Homo sapiens: one gene and its partners. The protein of the gene in region 1 interacts with the protein of each later gene in a biochemical or structural test. Each region holds a gene or a part of one and is shown on either strand. Other genes may lie near its edges.

Evidence for each region. Proteins that work in one complex are often made in the same cells at the same time.
Region 2: the proteins of MARCHF5 (region 1) and IMMT form a complex in vitro, tested with the Homo sapiens proteins (one study listed by BioGRID).
Region 3: of the proteins of MARCHF5 (region 1) and ERN1, one has a biochemical effect on the other in vitro, tested with the Homo sapiens proteins (one study listed by BioGRID).

What each region holds. Positions count from the first base shown.
Region 1 is NC_000010.11:92,307,396-92,315,476, forward strand, and holds part of MARCHF5 (E3 ubiquitin-protein ligase MARCHF5), read left to right. Parts: intron 1-3,739; coding exon 3,740-3,942; intron 3,943-8,081. UniProt on the Homo sapiens protein: Mitochondrial E3 ubiquitin-protein ligase that plays a crucial role in the control of mitochondrial morphology by acting as a positive regulator of mitochondrial fission and as an important regulator of immune response.
Region 2 is NC_000002.12:86,163,720-86,171,800, forward strand, and holds part of IMMT (MICOS complex subunit MIC60), read right to left. Parts: intron 7,663-8,081; exon of another isoform or gene 7,627-7,662; coding exon 7,489-7,626; intron 7,126-7,488; coding exon 7,030-7,125; coding exon of another isoform or gene 7,022-7,029; exon of another isoform or gene 5,594-7,021; intron 2,926-5,593; coding exon 2,789-2,925; intron 1-2,788. UniProt on the Homo sapiens protein: Component of the MICOS complex, a large protein complex of the mitochondrial inner membrane that plays crucial roles in the maintenance of crista junctions, inner membrane architecture, and formation of contact sites to the outer membrane.
Region 3 is NC_000017.11:64,037,899-64,043,482, reverse strand, and holds the end of ERN1 (serine/threonine-protein kinase/endoribonuclease IRE1 precursor), read left to right. Parts: 3' UTR 1-4,341; downstream 4,342-5,584. UniProt on the Homo sapiens protein: Serine/threonine-protein kinase and endoribonuclease that acts as a key sensor for the endoplasmic reticulum unfolded protein response (UPR).

The DNA of each region.
Region 1 (8,081 bases):
AAACAACTAGTAAGATAGCAAATCAGTTAATAAATTCTTTAGAACTTAACATATTTGGCCAGGCACAGTGGCTCACGCCCAAAACTTTGGGAATCCAAGGCAGGAGAATTGCTTGAGCCCAGGAGTTTGAGACTGGTCTAGGCAACATAAGGAGATCCTGTCTCTAAAAAAAAAATTTTTTTTTAATTAGCTGTGTGTGGCCAGGCGCAGTGGGTCATGCCTGTAATCCCAGCATTTGGGAGCCTGAGGTGGGCAGATCACTTGAGGTAAGGAGTTCAAGACCAGCCTAGCCAGCATGGTGAAACCCTATCTCTACTAAAAATACAAAAACTAGCTGGGCATGGTGGCGGGCACCCTGTAATCCTACTACTTGGGAGGCGGAGGCATGAGAATCGCTTGAACCGGGAGGCGGAGGTTGCAGTGAGCCGAGACCACCACTGCACTCCAGCCTGGGCAACAGAGCAAGACTTTGGGCTGCTGGTTGCCCATTTTTATGGTTATTTCTTGATGATATGCTAAACAAGGAGAGGATTATTTATGCTTCCCCCCTTTTTTTTTTTTTTGAGATGGAGTCTCACTCTGTCACCCAGGCTGGAGTGCAGTGGCACGATCTCAGCTTACTGCAAGCTCTGCCTCCTGGGTTCACACCATTCTCCTGCCTCAGCCTCCCGAGTAGCTGGGACTACAGGCACCTGCCACCACGCCTGGCTAATTTTTTTGTATTTTTAGTAGAGACGGAGTTTCACCATATTAGCCAGGATGGTCTCGATCTCCTGACCTCATAATCCGCCCTCCTCAGCCTCCCAAAGTGCTGGGATTATAGGCATGAGCCACCGCGCCCAGCCTATGCTTCCCCTTTCTAGATCATATAGGGTAACTTCGTGACGTTGCCGTGGCATTTGTAAACTGTCATGGTGCTGGTGGGAGTGTAGCAGTGAGGACGACCAGGGGTCACTCGTGAGCATCTTGGTTATGGTGGGTTTTAGCTGGCTTTACTGCAACCTGTTTTATCAGCAGTATCTTTATGACCTGTATTTTGTGCTGACCTCATATATCATCTTGTGACTTAGAATGCCTTAACCATCTGGGAATGCAGCCCAGTAGGTTTCAGCCTCATTTTACCCAGCTCCTATTCAATCAAGACGGAGTTGCTCTGGTTCACATGCCTCTAATACTGCTATTTCAACTGAAAGCCTAACTCCTGATAAGTACGCACTCTGAATCATCATTCAGCTATCTTATTTACCATAGTTGTGAAATTAATTAGAAAAAAAACTGAAAGTGCATAAGTGCGTGCGTTGTTTGTTTTTTGTTTTTTTTTTTTTTTGAGACGGAGTCTTGCTCTGTTGCCCAGGCTGGAGTGCAGTGGCGCGATCTTGGCTCACTGCAAGCTCCGCCTCCCGGGTTCACGCCATTCTCCTGTCTCAGCCTCCTGAGTAGCTGGGACTGCAGACACCCGCCACCATGCCCAACTAATTTTTTTGTATTTTTAGTAGAGACAGGGTTTCACCGTGTTAGCCAGGATGGTCTCAATCTCCTGACCTTGTGATCCGCCCGCTTCAGCCTCCCAAAGTGCTGGGATTACAGGCTTAAGCCACGGCACCCGGCCAAGTGCATGCTTTAAATGTCAGTTCTAAAAAGTAAATCTGTACAAGTATTTAGGACTGAAATATACTGATGCCTGCAACTTTGAAATGCAGCAAAAAATAAGAATAATGAATGGATGTGTGAGAAAGCAAATATAGCAGAATAAGAATTATAGAATCTAAATGTTGGGTATATGGGTAGTCACTGAACAGTTTTTAACTTTTTTTGGAAAGTTTGAAATTTTTCATAATAAAATGTTTGGGAAAAATAAACCTTATCTAGAATTTATAAGGAATATAATAGCTACACAAGTATTCTCATTAGATCAAAATATGAAATTTGACCTATCTTTTCTGTAAGTCAGAAACAGATTAATGTAGACTATTTCAGTTGGTTCAACCTAGTCCTAACATTGTATTTTATTTTTCTGATGACTGAAATTGGATTAATTTAAAATGTGATTCACCATAATACTGATTAATTATGCTGATGTAGCTATTCTTATTTACGTTTGTGTTAAGAAAGTATGAGACTAAAGAGTCTCTAAATATTCTGCCAGTATTTTGTTGCTAAAATGATACATTCCATTTCCTAGATGTATACAAATATGTCCACAAAATTACCTCAGTTGTGGGGAAAAATATATACTAACAACATCTTAACCAGCCTGTGTGCTAGTATACTTACCAATTGAAATTTTATGCAAAAATCATAGGTTAGAACCCAGTCCTACTATGGGTAGTCTTGGTGGTTGCACAACAGTATGAATATACTTACTGCCACTGAATTATACACCTAAAAAATGGCTAAAATGGTAGATTTTATGCTATGTCTATTTGACGATAAAATTTTTTAAAAAAGAACAAAGTATTTTTGGACAACCATAAGACAATGTGAAGGCCCAGACAGCTTAGCTAAAGTGGGTCAAAAGGGTCAGAATGCTAAACAAATGCTACCTACGTTCTAATTTTACTTAGATCTTATGAAACCTGACTGAATTTGAAAGCTGAATAAAACAACTATTTTGGATATTGATGCCCTGGATTCAGTTCAACTTTTTTTCTGTTCTAATTGAAAAATTGTAATTGGAGCACACAATTGAAATTCATGTTGTTCCACAAGGACTGGAGAACCTCACCCATCTATAATACCTGAGTATATAGTCTTTCCCACTGAGCATAGTTAAGCTAGTTGTTCTGACAGAAGCCACTTATCCAATTAATTAAAAAGTGCACAGTAGGTAACATGCTTTAATTAGCAGTTGTTTCCACTTGTACAAGTTCTAATGGAGGGGAGGAGCGAAGGGTCTCATTGAATTGAACTGTATTTGCCCTGATGGAAATCGATGTCAAAACTTGTGTTAATTGGGAGAAAAACTGAGGAATTACAACCTAATTCCACAAGAAAAAATTACAATTCATGAAGTACCCTTAAAAGCAAAGTGGGAAAATGTTTTAAAATTACCGATCTCAATAGAATTTTATTTTTATTAATATAAGCACCCCAGACTTGATACTTCTAGATTTCAGATTTCAAGCATACACGCCCAAATTTATCATATTGCTATTCTAAAAAAAAAAATCTTGATATATTTATCTCCTTTGTGCTTTTTTGAAAATGTAATATTGTTTTCTCTCATGTTTATACTTTACCGGAAAGAAAAATGGGTTTTTTTTTCCTCAGCTGAAAAATGGAATGAGACTGTATGTGAAATCACTCGTGTAATACTTTGTTTTTCCAAGTTCAAGGGATTGGTGGTGGTGAACTGGGGAGAACACTGAATTTAATATATTACTGTGCTTACTATTCCTCAAAGAATTATTAGGTCTTATAACAAAAACAACTTGAGGTTTGTCTCCTTGCACTCTGGTTCATTAGAGAAGGTGAAGAATTACTGAAAAGATAGAGGAGATTACATAAAAACAAAGTTCAGAAAACATAAGTTCTGTAGAGGAAGACAAGGAAAAACAGAAAAAGTAGAAACTGCTCTAGTGGGAATGTATTGGTTGTTTTGTCTCCTTAGTCTTTTAATATAGGACAGAGATTCTGTAATATAACATAGCAGGCTCATCCCATTAAGTAAGAGCTGCAGTATAGAGGAGGCTGGAGTCCTAAAGATATAAATGTCATCCTTTTCTCTTTTAATTTACAGAAGTTGCTGGGTTTGTTTTGCTACTGATGAAGATGATAGAACAGCTGAATGGGTGAGACCATGCAGGTGCAGAGGATCTACAAAATGGGTTCACCAGGCCTGTCTACAACGCTGGGTGGATGAAAAGCAAAGAGGAAACAGTACAGCCAGAGTGGCATGTCCTCAGTGCAATGCTGAATACCTAATAGTTTTTCCAAAATTGGGTAAGAATATCTTTAAAAACAACACAGATATAGTTGATGTTATTATATATAACTTTATAAGTTCATTTTAAAATGAACCACCTCTTTTTTTTAGGGTGTGAATTTCTATATTCCCTTTCTCTTGTTTCCTCTCTGAATGTCAGACATTTATTTCTTTTGCTAACAGTTTACAGTATCCTTAATATATCCCCAAATTTATCCATTTGCCTGTGTATTAACTGTCTGTTTGATAGAAAGGAGAAAGAACTTGCATACCTGTGTGGATATAATTGAATAACAAAGCTCTAATAAAAAGCTGACTTTTAAAAAAAAAACTAACTTAGCTTAATTATCTGGAGACGGTGTAAGAGAAAGAAAGCAGTAGTATGTTCTAATACTTCTCCTTAATTCTTCCTTTTAAGGAATAAAAGTAGAGAAATTAAATATTTAATAAGATGTGACGTTAAACTCATCTTTGGAATCCAATTTATGTGGTTTCTTTCATGAACCCTGCTATCCCTTTTCTGTGAAGTGGCAGGTAAGAAATAACCAAAGATCTTTGAGAACAGGCCTAGCATGGAAAAAAAGTATAGCAGACTGCTTACAAGAAGCATTCTAAGGCTGCTTCTTTAGCAGCAGTATAACTAAGGCTGATATTTAGTGAGCCTGTTCCATTACAGCCATACAGTTATAAATTGGTGTCAATCTCTTGGTTTGGTGTTTATACCATGCCAGTTGTTAAACATTTTTTTATAACCCTTGACTGTAACCAAGAGGTATAGGAAGGCAGCTTGGGTTCTGGGAAGGTCATAAGGAAAGAATGTCTTTGGGGGCAGAGGGAATTCAGGAAAAATTGGAAATAATTATTATATATATTGTTTTTTATAAGTGCTATTCATACTGAAATCAGACCAATGTTTTTGAAAATGTGGCAACATAAATGCAGATAATGAAGTGCTTTTCTAATATGAGAAGATTAATAATAAGGGCAAACAAAATGTCCTTGGTTCTCTGTTTTTCTCTAACATGCACAGGAAGAAATGATAGCTTCCTTTGAAGGGGAAGTAGTGTAGTAGAGAAAGTAGTGTTTTCAAACATTTGGAATTTGTGGACCATGTGATGGGTCTTCAGTGCATACCACTGATTTTAGATAAACACAAAAGAATAATTCAAAATGTTTTTATTGTAAGATCAAAGAAGTATTTTTAAATCAGTATCAGGAAAAGCAATGATTGTTCACATTATTGTACCACCACATGAATGGTGAAAGACTCACTAAAGTCCAAGTTAAGGTTTCATATTTAACTGATTTCTTTTCTTGCTCTTAGTTGTACTAAATTAGATAGCCCCACCTTTGAATTATAGAGTTGGGAAGAGCAACAATTAAATATTTCTATTAGATGTTTTAGATATTCAAATGGACACAAAAATTATTACAAGAATTCTCACTGAAAACTACATCAAGTTGACAAGTGTATGGCACTCGAAAGCAAAGTTGAGTATTTTAATTTTGGAGATGGCAATGTGTAGATCTGTCCTTTTGGTTGAATTCAGTTCTAGGAAATATGTTTTCAGGTTTAGTGCAGTAATTGAATATGGTTTTAAGTCTACCTAGTTGTTAGAAAAGAGTAAATCTTGGCTGGGCGTGGCGGCTCACGCCTGTAATCCCAGCACTTTGGGAGGCAGAGGCGGGCAGATCACGAGGTCAGGAGTTCGAGACCAACCCGGCCAATATGGTGAAACTATGTCTTTACTAAAAATACAAAAGTTAGCTGGACATGGTGGCGTGTGCCTGTAGTCCCAGCTACTCAGGAGGCTGAGGCAGAAGAGTTGCTTGAACCCAGGAGGCAAAGGTTGCAGTGAGCCAAGATCGTGCCACTGCACACAAGCCTGGGCGACAGAGCCGAGACTCCATCTCAAAGAAAAAAGAAAAGAGTAAAACTCTTTGGTTAAGCCATTTGTATCATTATTTAGTCTGCATATTTTGTTACTAAGAATTGTGGCCGGGCCGGGCGCGGTGGCTCACACCTGTAATCCCAGCACTTTGGGAGGCCAAGGCTGGCAGATCACGAGGTCAGGAGATCGAGACCATCCTGGCTAACACAGTGAAACCCCATCTCTACTAAAAATACAAAAAAATTAGCCAGCCTTGGTGGCAGGTGCCTCTAGTTCCAGCTACTCGGGAGGCTGAGGCAGGAGAATGGCGTAAACCCGGGAGGCAGAGCTTGCAGTGAGCCAAGATAGCGCCACAGCACTCCAGCCTGGGAGATAGAGCGAGACGCCGTGCTAAAAAAAAAAATTGTGGCGGGTCACAGTGGCTCACACCTGTAATCCCAACACTTTGGGAAGCTGGGGCGAGTAGATTGCTTGAGACCAGCCTGGGCAACAGGGTGAAACTCCATCTCTACCAAAAATAACAAAAAAAAATTAGCTGGGCATGGTGGCACACACCTGTAGTCCCAGCTACTCAGGAGGCTGAGGTGGGAGGATTGCCTTAGCCTGTGAGGTGGAGGCCACAGTGAGCTGTGATTGCGCCACTGTACTCCAGCTTGGGAGACAGAGTGAGACCCTGTCTGAACAACAAAAAAGAATTGTGGCCAGTCATGGTAGCTCACATCTGTAATCCCAGCACTTTTGAGGCTCAGGTGGGTGGATTGCTTGTGGTTACGAGGTCAGGATCAGCCTAGGCAACATAGCAAAACCTTGTCTCTCTACAAAAAAGAAAAAGAAAAAGAAAAAAAATTAGCCAAGTGTGATGGAGCACACCTGTTGTAAGTCCTAGCTACTCGGGAGGCTCAGCTGGGAGGATCACTTGAGCCCAGGAGTTTGGGGCTGCATTGAGCTATGATTGCGCCACTACCCTCTAGCCTGGGTGACAGAGTGAAACCAATCTTAAATAAAAGAGAGAATTATAATTTTACTCTCAAATGATATGTTCAAGCTGGTCACTATACTGTCTGTCATAGAGGTATGGCACTTGAGTTAGCCGCTTAAAATCATAGATATGTTTTAATGACATCAGTGTTATAAAAAAAAATGAATATCCGCTGGGCACGGTGGCTCACGCCTGTAATCCCAACACTGGGAGGCCAAGGCAGGCGGATCACCTGATATCAGGAGTTCAAGACCAGCTTGGCCAACATGGTGAAACCTTGTGTCTACTAAAAATACAAAAATTAGCCAGGCGTGGTGGCAGGCGCCTGTAATCCCAGCTACTTGGGAGGCTGAGGTAGGACAATCACGTGAACCTGGGAGGCAGAGGTTGCTGTGAGCCAAGCTCACACCATTGCACTCCAGCCTGGGCGACAGAGCAAGACTCTGTCTCAAAAAAAGAAAAAAAAAAGTATATCCTTCATTTGAGTAGGTATTGTTAGCATATTTCCTCTTGACAAAACAGAAAAACAGAGTATTTGCTGCTGCTGCTTCCCCCCGCCCCCCCCCGCCAATAGAGGTTGGGTCTTGCTATGTTGTCCAGGCTTGTCTCAAACTCCTGGGCTCAAGCAATCCACCTACCTTGGCCTCCCAAAGTGCTAGGATCACAGGCATGAGCCACTGTGTGCCCAGCCTGCCGCTGCATTCTTAACATGCTGAAGATACCTATTCAAGGGCTGCAATTTTAATTATATTCACAATTTTCCATGCAGTTATTAACAATGACTCAAGCCAGCTGTTGTCTGTAAATGAAGCCATGTGTGAATTGGCTTTCAGGTGGTGGGCTCTTCATTGCTGCACACAAAGCTAGTGCTCTAGCTATGCTGATTCCAGCACAACTTTTCAATTCAAGTTTCAAAAATAATTGTTGGTTAAAAGAAAATATCTTCTTCTAAAACTTTTAAAAAGTTGCTTGTATTTCTTGATTAACATGTTACATTCGTATATACTAAGAGTTGATTCGTACTCTGTACGCTAGTGGCTTCATGCAGCCATTAAACAAAATACTTAAGAGCCTGCATCTGTGATAATAATTGTTCTTCCTCTCTGTATAACACACGTAGCACGTAATGTCCGATAGTGTCATCTGATGATAGAATTTTGCCAGTAGATTGTTTTGTTTCTGTCTGAGCACATTTGTCATTAATTTTGCAGCTGACAGTAGTTGAATCTGTTTTGTTAAAAGAAGTACCTTTGACTATTATTTTGATCTTTTAATGACAGAATTC
Region 2 (8,081 bases), on another chromosome or scaffold:
CCCAGCAATTTTGGAGGCTGAGGTGAGCAGATCACCTGAGGTCAGGAGTTCAAGACCAGCATGGCCAATATGGTGAAACCCTGTCTCTACTAAGATGGGTGTGGTGATGGGCGCCTGTAATCCCAGCTACTCTGGAGGCTGAGGTAGGAGAATCGCTGGAACCTGGGAAGCAGAGGTTGCAGTGAGCCGAGATCACGCTATTGCACTCCAGCCTGGGCAACAAAGCAAGACTCCATCTCCAAAAAAAAAGAATGTTCTATGTAAAATTTTGCAAAGTATATCTTATGATGCGAAAAATAAAGTTGATGTTTCAGTGAATTCCCACTTTAGTCATTTTTTTTTTTTTTTTTTTTTTGAGATGGAGTTTCATTCTTGTTGCCCAGGCTGGAGTGCAATGGCTCGATCTTGGCTCACCACAACCTCCACCTCCCAGGTTCAAGCGATTCTCCTGCGTCAGTCTCCCGAGTAGCTGGGATTACAGGCATGGGCCACCATGCCCAGCTAATTTTATATTTTTAGTAGAAACGGGGTTTCTCCATGTTGGTCAGGCTGGTCTCGAACTCCTGACCTCAAATGATCCACCAGCCTCAGCCTCCCACAGTGCTGGGATTACAGGTATGAGCCACCACGCCTGGACCGCTTTAGTCATCTTGAAAATAAAATACATCAAGAATGTATACTGATTTGGGGCCAGGCATGGTGGCTTACGCCTATAATCCCAGCACTTTTGGGAGGTGGAGGCAGGTAGATCACTTGAGGTCATGAGTTCGAGACCAGCCTGGCCAACATAGTGAAACCCTCTCTGTACGAAAAATACAAAAATTAGCCAGGTGTGGTGGTGGGCACCTGTAATTTCAGCTACTTGAGAGGCTAAGGCAGGAGAATTGCTTGAACCTGGGAGGCAGAGGTTGCAGTGAGCAGAGATCACGCCACTGCACTACAGCCTGGTGACAGAGCAAGACTCTGTCTCAAAAAAAAAAAAAAAGGAATGGATGCTGAGTTGGGCCACATGAACTGACCCAAATAGAATTACAAAGCATGTAAATGTCAATGACATATCTGGGGGCCAAAATTTATCACCCTTGTTGAAGGTACTCCTGCTTACAGAAGTCCAAGGAAAACCTACCCTGTAACAGACACAGATTCCCCTACAACCAAACTAAATCCTAGTATTACCAAATCCAACTCTTCACAAACACTGCTTTGTGAAAGTTATTCAGTATATATTAGAAATTACATGTGCACCTGTAGCTTCTTGTACTAGAAAAAACAAAAGCTGGAATTCATTCTTAACATTCCAAAATGTGTTCATACATTTTTCCAATTATTTTGTACATTAGCTAATACTCTCATCTGTTAACTGCTACCATTAGATTGTAAAATCTTGACTGCAATAGATTTTACACTGTCTAATCACCATGTGCTACACATTATGTGCGTTAGGAAGATGAAATACCACCTTGTGTACCCTTATACCCAAGTAGTAACATGGCATTTAAAGCTTCCAATCCGTGTCCTTCTGAGGGATACTGGTCTACTTGGGTTTGAACCCAACACCCTTACATCACGCAACTTCTAGCCTTCCCATATCGGTAACCAGCAAATTAAATTTCCTGGGTGGTTTCCACTTTGCTGACTGAACTCTGATATTTAAGTATTTTTCTTGGACTTTGAATAAAATGGAATTTTCCTTAAAATTTCAAAGGTTGTAGTTTCTTGCTACTAACATCAGAGGTCTAATTAAACTCTTTTGTAATATAAGTACATACGACTGAAACAATGTAAAGTGTGTGTAAAATTTTTTTTAAAACTACAATTATGATGGCAAAGTAACTTTACTGACCATGTATGATCCTGATCCTTAAGATTAATAATTTATGCATTTTACTTTAATTTACTCCTTAAATGACTTGGAATAGAGATACATTTATACATACTGAATAACTTAATGTAATTATAAAATAATGTATTAAGTCCCAGTATTAAATTTTGAAAAATCAATGTTATTACTTCATTCTTTGAAGTGTTTCGCATAAATAATCATAAACATTTAAAATAGCAGGTGTTTCAGGGAACATGAGAGCTCTCTGTATTATTTCTTAAAACTGCATGTGAAGTTTGAGAAGTATCTTAAAAAGTTTACCTATGGAAATAGCAATTTTAAAGCAAACAACAAAAATATTTAAGTGCTATTAAAATATGAAAGCAAATCTGAACTAATTCTTGCGCTGCATCGGTGTTGTAAGATATAGTAAAGCACAATGTATAAAATTCATTCTAAAAAACTTAAAGGCTTTTTTCAGTTTGTTTTTTAAACATAATTACTCTAAGGCCAAGCACAGTGGCTCACGCCTGTAATCCCAACATTTTGGGAGGCCGAGGCAGGCAAATCACTTGAGGTCAAGAGTTCCAGTCCAGCCTGGCCAAAATGGCAAACCCTGTCTCTACTAAAAGTACAAAAATTAGCCGGGTATGGTGGCGGGAGCCTGTAATCCCAGCTACTCGGGAGGCTGAGGCAGGAGAATCGCTTGAACCTGGGAGGTGGAGGTTGCAATGAGCCGAGATCGCACCACTGGACTCCAGCCCGGGCGACAGAGCAAGACTCCGTCTCAAAACAATAACAAAAAAAGATTAATTATTCCAGACTATCTTCCCCTAGTGAGAGAAAGCCGATATCATACGGAAGAAAGCAGTCTGTTAAATATTACACTTCTCTCCACCCTCGATTTTTCTTTTTGTCCTCCAAGTCATGACAGCCAGAACACTTCTAATCATTCATTGGGCTCACCTCAGAATTGTCCATGGCGGCTTTCAATATGTTGGAGTGTGCATTGACAGCCTGGACCGCAGCATTCTGAGCTGCAATAGCCTGCAGAGTGACACTTGCAGTTTGCCTCAGAGCATCTTCTAAGCTCTTGGCTAGAGCTTAAAAAAAAAAAAGAACAGTTAAAAAACAAATCCTACCCCCATAAATGACTTTAAACTTTTGCTGTTCTCCTATCTAGTCTTCCATTGCATTTCCCAAAAAATTTAAAAAGGAACAAAATACATGAGACTCAAATTTAGGGAATCAAAGTTTCACTTAAAAGTATGGTAAAGGCCGGGCGCAGTGGCTCATGCCTGTAATCCCAGCACTTTGGGAGGCCGAGGCGGGCGTATCACAAGGTCAGGAGTTTGAGACCAACCTGACCAATGTGGTGAAACCCCGTCTCTACTAAAAATACAAAAATTAGCCAGGCATGGTGGCGGGTGCCTGTAGTTCCAGCTACCTGGGAGGCTGAGGCAGGAGAATCGCTTGAACCTGGGAGGTGGAGCTTGCAGTGAGCCGAGATCATGCCACTGCACTCTAGCCTGGGCGACAGAGCGAGACTCTCTCAAAAAAAAAAAAGAAAACATGGTAAAATACTGATAATTTAGTCTGGATGATAAATCTATGAAGCTTTATTACACTTCTTTTTTTTTTTTTTTTTGAGACAGAGTCTCGCTCTGTCGCCCAGGCTGGAGTGCAGTGGCGCGATCTCGGCTCACTGCAAGCTCCGCCTCCCGGGTTCACGCCATTCTCCTACCTCAGCCTCCCGAGTAGCTGGGACTACAGGTGCATACCACCACGCCCAGCTAATTTTTTTGTATTTCTTAGTAGAGACGGGGTTTCACCATGTTAGCCAGGATAGTCTCCATCTACTGACCCCATGATCCGCCCACCCTGGACTCCCAAAGTGCTGGGATTACAGGCGTGAGCCACCGTGCCCGGTTTTTTGTTTTTTGTTTTTTTTTTTTTTTTTGGAGACGGAGTCCCACTCTATCGCCCAGGCTAGAGTGCAGTGGCACCGTCTCAGTTCACTGCAACCTCCGCCTCCTGGGTTCAGGCGATTCTCCTGCCTCAGCCTCCTGAGTAGCTGGGACTACAGGTGCCTGCCACCACGCTCAGCTAATATTTTGTATTTTTAGCAGACAGGGTTTCACCGTGTTAGCCAGGATGGTCTCGATCTCCTGACCTCGTGATCCATCCACCTCAGCCTCTCAAAGTGCTGGGATTACAGGCGTGAGCCACCGTGCCCAGCCTACTTTTTCTTTTCTGTATATCTAAACTTTTTCAAAATAAAAAGTGTTTTTTTTTTTCAAAATTATTTAAAGAAGGGTAATGTATTTCAAATGGGAGAAACAAGGTTTAGGACACTATAGCCCCTTTTACATATTGTGGCTATAAACTCAACAAATCCATCAGCTTTCTTCATTTTAAACAACAATCGTAACAGGGAAAAAGAGGTGCCCATTTCATCCCCTTGGCAAGAAGGAATACTCATAGCAAAACACTTATGTTGACAAGATACAAGAAAACAGACAAGAGAAAGAAAAAGACAAATAAGAAAACAGGTCAAAAAATACAAAACAAAACCCAAAGGCAACTTGAAATGGACAGTGTTCTTCCATAAAAGGACTCAAGAAATAGCAGACACCAATGTTCAAGAGGCTTCCATCTATTAAGATCACATTTCTATATGCTGTTTCGGGAATACCAAAAAGTAAAGCAAATGACAATTTTAGATAATTTACTAAAATGCAAAAATAAATGGTCATTTGAAGAAAGGCGGCTAGTAAGAATACTAATTTAATAATAAATGGGCCGGCGCAGTGGCTCACGCCTGTAATCCCAGCACTTTGGGAGGCCGAGGCAGGTGTATCACCTGAGGTCAGGAGTTCGAGACCAGGCTGGCCAACATTGTGAAACCCCGTCTCTACTAAAAATACAAAAATTATCCAGACATGGTGGTGGGTGCCTATAGTCCCAGCTACTCAGGAGGCTGAGGCAGGAAAATCGCTTGAACCTGGGAGTTGGAGGTTGTAGTGAGCCGATATTGCACCACTGCACTCCAGCCTAGGTGACAGAGTGAGACTCTGTCTCAAAACAAATTAATTAAATAAATGATATCACATGACAAAAAATAAAAAATGTATTTGACAAGCGAGAAAAAAAGATGATTTTGAGGAAAAGAAGCATAAACTAGCAATGAACAAATGGAATCTGAGGAACTACAAATGGTACCTCTGCAAGAAAGATAAGAGGAAAACTAATAAGGAGAAAATAAAAAGAAATTGACAGAAGTGATAGAAGTGAAATGAGAGCAGGGGATACAACAAGAGAAAGGGGCAAGGGAGAGAAACCGTGGTATTTGGATCCCATGACATGCGTGAGTGAACAGTGGACATCAAGTACAGGCAGTTGTGAACCACTTTATGGAGGCCACAGAAAGTGGGCTGCTGGGAGGCACCTGCTGCTTCCAGCCCTCTTCAGAGGTTTAGTCACTGTCCTTTGATCCTTGATAAATATTTCACATGCAAATGCATATGTGTATATTTTTAAAGTCAAGTTTGAGGGGGAATTAAGAGGTGACAGATAAAATTCTGAAAATTTTCACTTTGCCCAAAATGAAAGATGAGAGGAACCAGGCAAGGAAAAGAACAGCTGGAACAGCAGACATCTCCATCTTACGTTTATAACTTAATTTCAAGGTGCCCAAGTGATAAAGAGAGAAAAGTGAAAAGTGAAGAAAAAACAGGACTAAAAGAAAAAAGAAGTAGGAAAAATGAAATATTTCACTTAGTTAGAAGTCATTTATTAAATATTCACAAATATTTGTAACACAATCAGAAGAATACAAAAAATCAAAAACGAAAATCCAAATCCAAGTAGGAAAACTAATGCCATAGGCACAGAATGACACCTATGCTATTCTAAGAAACTTGGTTCCTCAGGGTAGGGCAGAACCAGCACATTACAAGGGAAACAGGAGCAAAACAAATGACAAGGAGATCAAAAAACTATAAACAGCTGCCATGAGTACTGAACTCTCTGTCCAGCAAAAAGCTACATCCCACGACCTCCAGAGACATCAACATATTATAGCACAGTACAAAAAATTATGTTACATGTGCTTTAAGACAGAAAAATAAATTGATAAATATCTATTATCTTTTTTAAACCATCAAAAAATTTAAGAATCCTGACCTACCGAGGACAGCAAAAATAATAATAATGATAAAAAAAACTTGGCCAGGTGTGGTAGCTCATGCCTGTAATCCCAGCACTTTGGGAGGCCAAGGTGGGAGGATTTCTTGAGGCCAAGAGTCCAACACTACCCTGACCAACACAGTAAGAGCCCATCTCTTAAAAACAAACAAACAAAAAAACCATAAAACTGAAACTTAAAAAGGAATATGCTTGTTAGCTGGAAACCAGCGATGTGTAGAACATTCCATGCCCCACCAGTGTCAGATAAAAGCACTACTAGAGAGTCCAGAGGCTAGATGATAAGGCAGTGTAAGCCATTCTGACTCCAACAAATAAATTTACAATTATTAATAAACAATTATTTACAAGTATAAATTAACAATTATTAATAAAAGACTCTTAGGGCTGGGTACAAGGGCTCAGGCCTGTAATCCCAGCACTTTGGGAGTTCAAGGTGGGAGGATCACTTGAGCCCAGGAGTACGAGACCAGTCTAGGCAACATAGTGAGATGCCTGTGTCTATAAAAAATTTTTAAAAAATTAGCTGGGTATGGTGGTACACGCCTGTAGTCCCAGCTACAGAGGAGGCTGAGGTGGGAGGATGGCTTTGGCCTGGGAGGTTGAGGCTGCAGTGAGCCATGACAGTGCCACCGCACTCCAGTCTGGGTGACAGAAAAGAGCCTATCTCAAAAAAATAAATAAAGGACTTTTAGGCAAGCTGCTAAAACATAAATAATCAATTTCTGTTTCCCAGAGTATAAAGAATCTTTAGCGCTAACATAATCTTTAGTATTATTTGGAGTTTTCACCAACTATACACTAAGAATAGCCTTTGTCACTTAGGTAAAAGAAGTTTAGATGAAATGAAGGTGATGAATAAAGCAATGCCACTAAAAAACAACCGCAGCAACAAAAGAAACCACAACTAGGTGATAGATGACAAACTTGTGCTGATAGTTTAAGAAGAGAGCAACTGGGAGATGACCCAAAATCCTTAAGAAGCTGTCTGGTTTACATACACTCAATTTTAACTTGTTCTTGTTTTTCCTGTTGTGCAAGGCGAGCTGCAACTTCTTCAGGTGGTCGCTCCCTTATAGAAGATGAGGATGCTTCTTCTTGCAGCAAAAGTAAATAAGAGGAAATCAAATTTCAGCATAGAATTTTAATAGCTAACAGGGATATAAAAAAAGCATCGTTTGTACTGGCCAGTTATATCAATGCAGGGCATTTTTGTGTTAAGAATTCTAAAACCATATCATTACTCTTAATGATTCCAAAATGAAGAAATAGGAATCAGGCTTTAATCTTCTTGTTTAAAAAGATACATTCGGACATTTAAATTTTAAAAATTTCCTAAGAAACTCTGAAGACCTAAACCTAGTGTAAATGTATACTTAGTGTCTACGTGTTGCCTAGGCATTAAATAGTTCTGATGAGTGTATCATGTATAAAAGAACAAATAGAAATAATTAAATTACCTGAAAGTGCAGGTGTGGGTTTTCCTTCACCAATTTCAGGGTGATCAGTTTTTAAAGATTCCTCAGGCTGAACTGCAGGGGCTGGGACCGACAGGGTATCACCTGCTGCAGAAATAATTTGAGCCGCTTCTGTAGGTGCTATAAATATATGTTACTCATGGTATTTATACTTTCCTGGGTTAACAGAGAAACACACAGAAATTTACTACCACCATCACCACCCACTTCACATCTGACTCCTTAGAGACACAAATATTTGTACTGCCACATGTTTGAATAACACACAAACAGGGGCACTGTCCACTGCATACATAAACTCACACAAAATGGACAATGGTTGGGAACGAACAAAAGAAAGAAGTCTTGTCTGCATCCACCTGCATTTTAACCATCATTATTCCAGGCAAGGCTTATAATAATAATATTAACACACAAGAAGGGGACATTTACACATGGAAAAAGAGTAACAAAGGAAAAAGCCTGTTAATGATGAAGACAGACAAAAGAAAGCAACTAAACAAAGAATATTTTTTAATTGCTTTGAAGAGTGGTAGAAGACGTGTGAGCAGGAAAAAGATTACAGTTTTAAACAA
Region 3 (5,584 bases), on another chromosome or scaffold:
TGAGATTTCTCATTGATCACAGATGTGCCCAGAGTAGCCCAGGTCACTGTTAACTAGTGTTTCTGCAGAGGCAGCAGGAGCCATGAGCATGAGGTGTGGCATTAGGGACTGGTCAGCTATGCATGCTGGCAGGTGGGGTTGTGTCTGCAGGTCTCAGAAATGAAGAGGCTGCTCTGTTCTGGAGGCAGCCGTGGCCCAGTGCCAGTGGCCAGAACAGTGGCCTTTGGTGGGTGTGTCCCGGGCCATCTCGGGGTGGTGCTCAGGAGCGCCTGGGGCAAGAGGTAAAGAGTTCCCTGGCCTTCAAGGAGAGCAGCGAAGACCCAGACAGGGGCCAGCCTTCAGGACCAGAGGGAGGCCGCCGAATGGGACCCTCCTGGTCACCAGGAGAAAGCCCTGGGCCAGCGAGTAGGCAGTCAAACTCCTTCGTCCCCAAGGCCGGTGGAACAAGAGGCTCGTGGTGAGTCAGGGCCAGGGTGGGTGGCCAAGGCCAGGGTCACCGTGTGCTTCATGGGCCAGCTTTTTTGTTTTTCTTGGCAAATTTTAATAACTATATTTTGATTATACTGTAGAATGCTATGTCAGCATAAGTAAGCTAAACTTGAAGCTTTCTTGTGAAGAATAAATGCAAGATAGAATACATCTTCTATTTTTTGTGGTACCAAAAATCACCATCCCCTCAAGAGTGTTCATGTATAGAACATTCTCTAATGCTGAAGAGTAAAACATTATAGCAACACTATGTAAATGTATTGAACAGTATCAAAGAAATAGTCTCTAAATTGTTTGTACCATATTTTTTTTTCTAAACTTAACATAATTTTTAGCTTTAGTTTCAGTCAAAACTTTGTCTTTTCTCTCCCGAGAGCCTTAGAGGTTAAAATGCAATCAGCCTACCGTGTAAGGAGATGTTGTCCATGTACTTTCTCCAGCCAGTTGGGGGATCATTGCAGCTCAGGCCTGGTGAACTCAGAGATTCCATTCAGTATTAAGAATGGGATTGTTGAATTTTACTCACAGAGAAATCACTGTTTCTTCATGTTGTAAGATGTTTTCTGTTTGTGTATTTGTATCATGGTTACTCATCAAAAGCTCTCATTCTGCCTTTGTAGAATTCAGTTCCCTTCCTTTCATCATAGCTAAAGTGACTTTTTTCCCTACTATTAACGTGATCCTACATCCTTAAATCTCATCGATTACCTCACTTAGGCCTTGGAACCTTGGCCCTTGGTCGGTGTCCTTGGCGTCTTCTAAGCAAGGCTGTGCGTTGTTCAGAAACGTGGCCAGACCGCATTTCCTGCTGCTCCCATGCCGCATGCCAGGTGGCCTGAGACAGAGCTCCCCATACGGCTGCAAGGTGCTTTACCTGTGGGCTTTGGCAGTAACCCAAGAGAGGATCAGAAGGTGGAGAAGGTGCCACGAGTGATTTAACAGGCCTGCCACAGGGAGTGCCCCCAGCCCAGCTCGTTCTCAGCACAGGTTTTCTCTTTGGGAGTACCCAGGTGATTTCTAGTGACCCAATTTTGTGTCATCTCCCTGTTTTAGCCCCACTTGCCTAGAGACAACTGTTTCCGATGCCTTTTCTGCTTATCATACTAGTTTCTAACCACGCAGATTTCTCAAAATCATTTATTCAATGTATTTTATTTGAGCACTTAGTGTATTGAGCTAGGCAGGATATAGGGTGCCGGAGATACAGCGATGAACAAGACAGGCAAAACTTCTGCTTTCCTAAAACTTGTGATGAGAGAGAACAATAAAAAAGTGTTGCTGCCACAAAGAAACCAAAGTGTGTGGGGAAGGGCGCGTGTTTGCGGTTTACATCTCTTCTGTCCCAGAATCACAGGGATCTGGTCCGGTCACCTCTGGTCTTTCCTCTTAGTCGCCTTTAGGAGCCCTGGTTCCCGTCCATCCTCTGGGGGGTTTGTTTGAAGAGATCTCGTGTGGGTACTTGTCATGAAAACACCTTGGGCATCATCTGGTGTATCCAGTTCTAGTCTCGAGAATTCTGGTTTCCCACTGTGCTCAGCAAGTGGAAAGTTCTTTTCAGGCCAGAACAGCTCTGCACCATCACATATCGTGTTGCGGCTTAGCTGTTTGGTCTGTAGTTCAGGTTATGGGACTTCTCCAATCCTGGAAGGCTGTTGAGCTTTTTAGAAGTACTGTACGCTATCTTCAAGATGGAGCTTGGTCACATCTGTTAGGAATCCAAAGGACACTATGACTTATTTAAATCTTGTCTTACTAAACCTCTCTTGGGCACGTGTGCCAGAATTTCTCTTGTTGCTTCTTGAGTCTTTTTAATTTCAGTGTTTTTTCGTTTGTTTTTTGTTTTTTTGAGACAGAGTCTCGCTCTGTCACCCAGGCTGGAGTGCAGTGGCACGACCTCAGCTCACTGCAACCTCCGCCTCCTTGGTTCAAGCAATTCTCCTGCCTCAGCCTCCCGAGTAGCTGGGATTACAGGTGTGTGCCACCACGCTCGGCTAATTTTTTATATTTTTTTTAGTAGAGACGGGGTTTCCCCATGTTAGGCAGGATGGTCTCGATCTCCTAACCTCGTGATCCGCCTGCCTCAGCCTCCCAAAGTGCTGGGATTACAGGCTTGAGCCACCGCACCCGGCCTAATCTCAGTTTTTGAAGTGCTCCACAAGTCATTAGGCACCAAAACATTTTCACCTGGGGAACACTGGCATTTCCCTGATTAGCTGTGAAGCAATCTAGTGGCTAAGTGTGAAATCCTGGGTGCGCAGGTGTTCTCACTCCCGCCGTGTTCTCAGTGCAGTGGTGGTCAGAGGCCCTTCCAAGGAGACATCACTCTGATCAGTTACAGATAGATGTTCTGGAAGATCTGCAGGTGAGTAGATCCAGCAGAGTTTCTTCCCACCAACTCTAGAAGAAAGGGCCTTATCAGAGTTGACCCTGAGCCTTTGGTAAGGTTTTGTGTGCATGCGATTCAGTTATCTTTGGCAATTCTTTTCTTGCTGCAGTGAGAGATTAATTGGTTGCTGATCAAACCGTTCATGCAGATGGGGGGACCTTTGGATTGTACGGCTTTCTCCTCTTGGCTGCTTTCTTTTCAGGAAGTTGGACTTTGGCCAGGTTTGGCTTTCCCAGAGCCGTTCCTTTCTCTGTCCTTTCCTTGGGTCCTCATGGTGTGCCCATTGGATCCTTGGCCTTGTGATCCTCTGGGAACTGGGGGCCAGTTCCACTTTTGCAGCCTTCTGTGCTGGAAGAGAAGCCCAGCGCCCTGGAAGGAGCCTCTTTAAGTCCCCCATGTCGCTTTCTCTCTCTGCTCTTTTAGTGTCTGAGATTGCCTTTCTTTGAATTTCCCAGTGTTTCTTTTCCTTGTCCCTTCCCTCACCAACCTGGAGTTATTTTGGTTGACTATGTCCTGGCTTTGGCTTCTCCTGGCAGGAAGTCATCAGGCATCCTCTCCAGGTGAGCCGAAATTCCACCCTCCCAGGTTGGACATCATCTTTTAAACCCAATGGTCTACTCCCCTCCTTCTTTATGAAACAGTGATTTCCCGTGAGTAACTCTGGTTCTGATTTTTTGTACCGGCGCTTAAATTCTTTCTGTAGACGTTGGAAAGCCACAAAGAACGTGACTGCAGTGAGCCTCCCACTGGAGCAGCCTTAACCAACACTTTGGCCAAAGCCCCCCCACCTCCCCTGTGTACTGTGTGTGTGTTTGGTGGATACAGTATTCCTTTTCAGTGTCCCTAAAGCTGTGATGGGGAGTCCCCACTTACCTAGAAAGCATTACCAGTCACCTACTCTGCATTCTCAGATGTAAACCTTGTGTAGTGTTCTTTTTGCAATGACCTATTTATTTAACCTATTTATATTTATTTAATTTTTACTCTGAAATGTATCCAGTTACAATTGTACTTGCTTAAAGCACATCAGATTTGTTTTGGACAACACCCTTGACCATTTTAAAACTGGAAAAGTGATACTGTATCCTTCCATGGGATGGATGCTTTACAGTAGTCTTATTATTAAAGGGTGATTAATTTGGTCGGGGTAAAATGTTAATTTTTAGGTGATTTTTAAGAATTCTGTGCCATTATGTCTTCTGTGTGGATGGTTAATTGTTTAATTAGTACGTGTTAATTGTGTGATACAGTCTTCTTTGTGGAACCCAAAATCCTCTTTTTAGCTTTATATTTTATAAACTGCCAGATTGTACAACTTTTATGTGCATTTTTAAAGCTTGAAGACATGAGGGTCATTATCTAAGTTAAACAGCCTATTTTTGTGCCTCCTGTACAGTTTTATAATTCTGCTGATGGCGGCATCTTATGTCGAGCCAACCACAATAAAGGTAGTTTTAGATTTTGGAGTCAGTCTCATTTTCTTAAAGATTCAAATACCATTCTCAGATAGGCTGTGCTCACTGTCCTTCTGGGTGGCCGGGGCTGGATTATGAGGCCTTTGCAGCTGGCTCGGCTGGTGGGGGATGGGTGTCCTCATGTCCACAGCAGGGTCCGGGGACTGGAACACCCTCCATGGTGGCTGTGTGTCAGAAAAGCTTCTTTGAAACCTTGCAGGAAGTTCCCAAAAGTACTGATTTGGGCTGAATTCCAGGAAGGTGGCCAGCTGGGACAGTCATGCCACGTGGTGAGAATTGGGCTTCAAAGCAGAGTTTGGGGCATGTGTACAGTAGGTAGGATACCAGACCAGGAAACCCAGGAGGGGAGAAATGCCATTGAGACCAACAAGGGCTGGGAGTGCCCCCAAAGAGTGGGACAGCGGCGTGTGGAATGAGCTCAGCTGACGTCTGCTTGGACTTTGCAATCCTCCCAACACACCTGCTCCTTCCCCTGCACCCTCTCTATGGAGAAATCAGGTGAGGCTCCACTTGCTCTTGCAGTGCCAGGCCGGGGGCAGCTTACAAGGGAGGACCCCAAGGGCCCACCTGCCCCAGGACAGCTTAGCGGGGGCTGCATCCAGGCTAGCTCCTGCCCTCCGCAAGCTCCACCTGCCACCATCCCATCCTACTCGCCTCACGCCTCGCAGGGCACCAGGAGCGACCCTGAGGCCTCTGGACACACACCTCCTCTGAGATGCAGTCTTGGACACAGCCAACTCCAAGGGTGAATGAAGGGCGGTGAGGTGTTGTTGTGTCACCGGTAGAGGGTTGTGACTGCAAGTTGCCCAGGTTCTTGGCGTTTTGAACAAATAATTAGACAAAACGCCCAGAAAAGCACAGAAAGAATGAAGCAACAAAAGAACGAAAGGGATTTATTGAAAACAAAAGTAGGCTCCACAGTGTGGGAGCGGACCCAGGCAGCAGCTCAAGGGCCCAGATACAGAATCTTCTTGGGTCCAAATATCCCCTTAGAAGATTCCCATTGGCCACTCATGCTCACCTCAGGTAAATGAAGTGGTAGCCTGCAATCAGTTGGTTGCAGACAGCAGCCAACCAGAGGCTTAAGTGAAGTTACAAAGGTCACACCCCTGTGCGAAACATCTGATTGGTTGCCAAAAGCAACCAATCAGAGGCTAGGATGAAGTTACAAAGTTATACTTCTATGCAAATGAAGACTCAGTCTGCAATCAGTCTGATTGGTTGTGGACAGAAA